Linked DNA regions of Homo sapiens. The protein of the gene in region 1 purifies or fractionates together with the protein of each later gene. This does not show direct contact. Each region holds a gene or a part of one and is shown on either strand. Other genes may lie near its edges.

Region 1 (3,500 bases):
GTTTCTGGTGAGGTTTGGATTTCTGTCAAAGTTTCTTGTCCTAGGTAATCATGGCTAGTAATTGCTACTGCAGAAGTGCCATGATTTGCTGTAGCTCCTGTGCTGGTTCCCATGGATTTGGAAATGACCTTCAGCTTGTGTGAACTTGGTTTATAGTGCTTCTTTTTGTGTTTAACTTTAGAATTGTGCTTTAAGAAAAACTCACATGATTCCTGTAGTACTCTTCGACTTTCACTGATTGGACTATAAGAAAATTGAAGGAGAGGATTTACTCAAATTAGAAGTGTGGCTATAAAGTAGAGGATATAAAGGATATCACATATCTTTTGCCAAAAATCCTTAGTCACTAAAGTTGAAAATTCTATGGTTTATATTATAAAATCTGGGATTATAAATACTAGGACATAAACTGATTTTATAAAATCTTTTGTGTATACACTCTAAGTTGCTTTTGTCAGTATAAATAGTAAACTGGCAAGAAATTAAGGCAAGAATCAAAGGATGAGGGCAAGGAGGCTCAAAACAGCATAAACGTACTATACATAATACTGTATTTGTATAATATATAAATATGTAATATAAAAGTAAACCAGAAGAAAAGGATAGAGAATATAATTAACGGTCTTCATTTAAATATAAGTCTTTTCTTTCTAACGTTAAAAATTAGCAAGTTACACTGAAATTAGTGTGAGTATATAAATATGAGATAGACATATAATAATAGTGCAAAAAAATCCAGTTGAATACGATTCTTCAGACTTCAGAAACTTATTTGTGAAATGGTCTACAGTTCTGAAATGAGTTAAGCAAACCAATGGGGAACAATTTTTAAAAAGCTATAGTACCTTGTATATAGTGTGTGTGCATATATATATATATATATAAAACTAAAATGAATTACTCATAAATATAAATCAATTTTGTTATAGAATATTCCATAAGTTTGAATTTTAACATCTTAAGTAAGACAAATAAGTGAAAGTTTAGGTCATAGCTGTGTGTAATAAGATTTAAAGTTAGTAAATAATGACCATAACACATCACTTATATTTGAATCATACTTTATAGGTTTCTTTATATATACTTAAGTCTTAATCTTTTATCCTTGATAAAAAGGATAAAATTATTTAAAATGCTGTACCCAAAATAATGAATCCAATGACAGCAGTAATAATACTGGATATACTATAAATCATGAAAAGAAAATATGCCTTTCATAAATCATTCATTCATATTTCAAATAGAATAGTATATGTCACAGACATATACTATATGATAAATAGTATATGTCAAAGACTATTGTAACAAATGCAAAAATAAAGCACGTCTCTTTCATAAAAAAAATTTCCAAACTTCAGTTGGCAAATCAAATTGAAATAATAGTTGATATAATGAAACTCTAGTACATTGATTTGAACAGTTCCTTGGTATTTTGATCTATTTATTTAAAAATTGTGTCAGACAATTCAATAGTTTCTTACTCTCTCTTGCGATTTCGTTTAAAAAACCCAGCCCATTCTGTGCATGTCTTTTTGCTTCCAACCCAGAAGACAGCAGAGATGCCAACAATTAATGTCATCAGGTATTTTATCATAAATAAAGCCAATTCTGGTCGAGCTTTTGCTTTTGCCTACAAAAAATAGTGAATAATAATATTTTCAGTGATGCACTTAAAGTGGAAAGAAGTCTATATTGTCAATATAAAACGAACAAAAGTTATAAATCTTCAACTGTTTTACTAAAAAGGTTTGAAATAATATAATGAAGCATGCTCTAAGTGCAACACATTTTTTATCTAAATGCTGAACAAAGAAACTTTATGTACCAAATCTCTAGAAAGGGGAAAATACTGAAATATATTTAAGAATAATCTCCTAAATCTTGGCATGATTTCCTCGCATTTTTTTCTCGATAGATACAGTAGCCTCTTATAATTGCCAGAATATTTGCCTCTAAATATGTACCTATTTTCCCCCACTATAATCTACCACAAAAATACATTTAAACTCATCATAACAAATATTTTACAGCTTTTATACGTTATTAATATTTATATTATAAAAACTTGGTTAAAGTAAATTAAGTATCAGTAAAATGCGAAAATTTCCTAAGAATTGAAATTATACTTTTTATTCAGGCATAAACTTTGAAATTCTAACCTTAAACATTGCACAAGGGTCACGATATTACATACTCTGCATTTCTTGCCTTTTTTACTTACTAATATTTCTTGGAGACCATTCTGTATCAATACAAATAGAGCTCTTTATTTCTTTTATTTTTTATTTTATTTTTATTTTTTGAGATGGAGTCTCACTCTGTCACCCAGGCTGGAGTGCAGTGGCGTGATCTCAGCTCACTACAACCTCCGCCTCCCGCGTTCAAGCAATTCTCCCGCCTCAGCCTCCCAAGTAGCTGGGACTACAAGTGTACGCCACCATGCCTGGCTAATTTTTTTGTATTTTAGTAGAGACAGGGTTTTACCATGTTGCCCAGGCTGGTCTTGAACTCTTGAGCTCAGGCAATCCGCCCTCCTCAGCCTCCCAAAATGCTAGGATTACAGGCGTAAGCCACCGCACCCGGCCAGAGCTCTTTATTCTTTGTAAAGGCTGTTGCATTGTGTGAGTGAACCATAACTTATTCTACTATCCCTGTTAATAGATACTTACTTCCAATCTATTGTCATTTGCAAATAATGTTGTAGTGACTATCTTGGTATTATTTAATTTCTCATATTTGTAAGCAAATCTGTCTATAAATTCCCAGAAGGGCAGTATCAGTGTACACACATTATACATCTGTACATACCGCGAAATTGCTTCAACAGAAGGTTGAACTAACTCTTAATAGCAAAGTCTGAAAATATGTATTTTGCTATTTATTGTTTCACCACACAGTGGTTAGAACACCTTTAAGATGTTTGCCGTATCATACATGGAAATATAATTTAATTTTAATTTTACATTTATTTTACTATAACTTTTTCACATGTTTAAGAATAGTTTTTTCATTTTTATTTCCTGTGAACCTTTTTCCTACTCTTTTCTCATTTTTATATCAGATGGATGGTTTTTTTCTTATTGATCTGTAGCAACTCTTTATAAATTAGAGAAATTAGCCTTTCAGCTATGATGTCATATGCAAATAAACTTTCCCAGTTAGTCTTTTGACATTGATTATGGATTGTTTGTTTGTTTTTTTTTGTCACGCAGAATCTTTAAAAAAATTTTTTTTTACTTAGTCAAATTTAGCAATCTTTTATAATTTCTACAACTACAGGAATATTATATCCTTCTCCACTTGAAGATTATAATTTTCTAATTCTATTATATTTTACAGTTTCTTACATAAAACATAATAACTACAGATCTTAAACTTGAAAACCATAGATCTTAAACTTTTTAATAATATGTAATAGTTTCCTCTCCCCAACCTTGCCAAAAAGACTGAGGAAACTAGGAGTCATTATTAATATAGCAGGATCACTTTAAGACACAGCC
Region 2 (3,500 bases), on another chromosome or scaffold:
ACAGCAACCCGGTAAGGTAGACAGAGCCATCTTGGTCCTGTCCTGCAGATGAGGAACATGTTCTTGATGGCAGGTGAGTGGCAAGACTAGAGTCCAGATCTTAGAAACACAGAATCCTAGAGTTAGAAGTTACCCTGACACAATAATCCAAGGCATCCTTTTCCCAGAGCATGAATCACCTTATAAAATCCCTGAGATTTCTTATGGCCCCTGCTTGAACTCTTCCAGTGATGAGTAACTCTCACCACCCATGAGCAATCCAGTATCAATACTGAGCTAAAATCCTTCTTATAACTTTCAGCCTATTCAATTCAATTTCTGCCCACAAGAACTACACCAAATTAAGTCAAATTCTAATTTACATTCTTTCTAAAATTTGAAGATATTACACTTGCCCTTTTCTTGCAGATAAAACATTTTCAGTTCTTTCAACTACTTATCATGTGATTACCTAGAACCATGCCTAAAATATATAGTAAATAGTGTTTATTGAATCGTTTCTCTTGCCCTTGGTACTATGTCCTGATCCTCCTGTCGAGGGGCTCCTTCCCTTACCTCGAGTGTCCTCAATTTTGTAATCTGTTCATCATTTGCTTATTTAAATAATAGGGAGAAAAGAAACAGTATAGTTTTCAGAACAATGTGAAACAAAATAAAAATTGTCCAAATGTCAGACAGCTTTCAATTTATTTTGTGATAATGGATTCATTATTTCACTCAACAGACTACCTCGGAGCTGCATTTCTAGAAGATAAGTCCCTCATTCATTGAGCATCTCCTGTAATAAGACACAGAATGGATCCCTGTGGAGAGTGGCCATCGAATTAAACAGAAAAATTCTAGTGAAGGGAGGGATGATTTGGGGTCTGGCTGGAAGACCCTGCATGAATACATTATCCTGCAGCATAGTTTTGCCTATTAAGAGAAGCAGCACCCATTTTTTGTTCAATTTTGGGTACCACCAGACTAAAAAACATATGTCTCTTCAAAAAGGAGCTCCAGAGGAAACTCTGACTATTTTCAGTTGGTCTTAATTTGGATTGGTGTGAGAGACAAGCACTGGTGTCAATGTGATGAGGCTGTGTCATTCCTAATGATGCAGAATTCAGCCAGCTTCATGCCTCTCATATAAGTGCTGTGCCGGGATGAATAGCAATGAGCTTAACATTTTGATAACTAAAGAGCCAGGAAATAGATGGTGAATGGTGCCCTACTTTATGAAAGAAATAATAGTAAATTGCTCCCAATTAAGGGAATATGCTTATTCATTAGAGTAATAACCTTATAGCAAGTTTGATGGTAAATAAGTCAAATCAAACATTCAAAACACAATTTCAGAAAAAGAACTGAGGCTAAATTATCCCATGATCACAGACTACATTGAAAACTATCAGAAGTTTGGCTAATTTGATCATGTTTTCAAGTTGTTCTGAAAACCTCTATGGCCTGAAAAGTAAACGACATAAGTTTCCTTTCTCTCTATTGCTTAAACAAAGAAACATGAAAAACTATTCTCCCTATATTGCAAATTCCGGTATTTTAGAAAGTGAGCCTCATCAGCAGTTTTCTCATCTTGAGTTTTAGAAAAGGCTGAATTTGGAAAGAGGCATTTCATACGATAGTATGTATTAAGGGTTGAGGGCTTGGGGACTGAGTTGTGATCTCCTCTCTCATAAAATATCCGCACTGTAGGCCGGGCGCAGTGGCTCACGCCCGTAATCCCAGCACTTTGGGAGCCCGAGGCGGGCGGATCACCACGTCAGGAGATGGAGACCATCCTGGCTAACACGGTGAAACCCTGTCTCTACTAAAAATAGAAAAAATTAGCCAGGCACGGTGGCGGGCGCCTATAGTCCCAGCTACTCGGGAGGCTGAGGCAGGAGAATGGCGGTGAACCCGGGAGGCGGAGCTTGCAGTGAGCCGAGATCGCGCCACTGCGCTGCAGCCTGGGTGACAAAGCGAGACTCCGTCTCAAACAAAAAAAAAAAAAAAAAGAAAGAAAAAGAAAAGGAAAAGGAAAAAAAAATCTGCACTGTAATCACATGGTAGGTGATAGATTCTTCACAGGCATAGAATGGAGGGAACTGCTAGTTAAACAAGACCCACCACCACAAGGGCTGAGGAGAGTCCCAAGGTGCCAGAGAAATTGTAGTGAAATATCACAGAGAGTTCTTGCTGAAAGACACTCAGATGTCCTGGGGCTTGTGTCTACTGTACTGCGGACTGACTACTCCTCTTTTCTTCCTTTGAAAAACTTATCCTTGCCTTCTCAGATCAATCCAAGGGGGTTCCTGGGGACAGCTGGTCCAACACGCTCAAATGAAGAAAGTAAGGTTTAGTGAGGTATGGTTTGCAAAAAGTCACATATTTGATTAGTAGCAAAGCCAGACATAGAAGCCAGGACTTTGGACTCCCAGTCCTGGCCTCTTTCTCATTTACCATGCTGCCTGCCTCCTGATGTTTGGAAAACATTCCTAAAGCTGGGGATTTTACACCTTCACTTGAATGGTTTTCTTTATAGGCAGAGGGAAAAGTACTGATCTTTGGAAGAGTTAGGATTAAAAACTAATAAGATGGGGGTACAGGGTGTTTAGGAGGAAGAATAGATACAGCAAGGCAAAAAAGGTGGGAAAAAGAAAAAAGGAGGTAATAGGAGAGATAAATATATGAACAATAAAATGGAAGAAAACAAGAGACAAGTGAAGAGGGAGAAATGAACTGAGAAGACATAGAAAATGGACACTTAAGAGCAGCAAACTGGCCAGGCATGGTGGCTCATGCCTGTAATCCTAACACTTCGGGAGACCAAGGCAGGAGGATTATTTGAGCCCAGGAGTTCGAGAACAACCTGGGCAACATGGGGAGAGTTTGTCTCTACAAAAAAATTTAAAAATTAAACATTATCCAGGCACAGCGACATGTGCCTGTAATCCCTGTTACTTGGGAGGCTGGGATGGGAGGATCGCTTGAGCTTTTGGAGGTAGAGATTGCAGTGAGCCGACATCATGCCACTGCACTCCATCCTGAGTGACAGAGTGAGACCCTGTCTCAAGAAAGAAAAGGAAAAAAGAACAGAACATCAAACTGAGGCAATCAAGGACTGAGAAGAAATTGGAGAAGAAAGAAGAGAAAAATAGAACCAAGAAAAGAGAAGAAAACCAGGAAGAACAACATGAGAAAACAGAGAGCTGCTGTGAGTCGAAGAGAGAGTGTATAGGTGGATGGGCAAGTTGGACCAAGAGGGATCCATAGGACATAAGGAGCATGCGTGGATGCAGGATGAACGAGTAGGAAGGCGAACAGCTGCACAGAGGGAAAGGAGTGATCAGAGTTGTCAATGCACACTTCGGGGAACTCAACAAAGTGATCTGGGGTGTTAGATTGATCCTTGGAATTACCTCAGAATGAGCTGAACTATGGTTCTAAGGATGCTGGTAACACAGGAGATTGTAAATTCCATATCTACAAAACTAAATCTCTAACCTTTCATCAGTCATCTC

The links. Proteins that work in one complex are often made in the same cells at the same time.
Region 2: the proteins of FZD6 (region 1) and POPDC2 purify together in Homo sapiens (co-immunoprecipitation; one large-scale study listed by IntAct). This does not show direct contact.

The regions. Positions count from the first base shown.
Region 1 is NC_000008.11:103,326,398-103,329,897, reverse strand, and holds part of FZD6 (frizzled-6 isoform a precursor), read right to left. Parts: intron 1,631-3,500; coding exon 1,482-1,630; intron 244-1,481; coding exon 1-243. UniProt on the Homo sapiens protein: Receptor for Wnt proteins.
Region 2 is NC_000003.12:119,643,590-119,647,089, forward strand, and holds part of POPDC2 (popeye domain-containing protein 2), read right to left. Parts: intron 1-3,500. UniProt on the Homo sapiens protein: Important for the maintenance of cardiac function.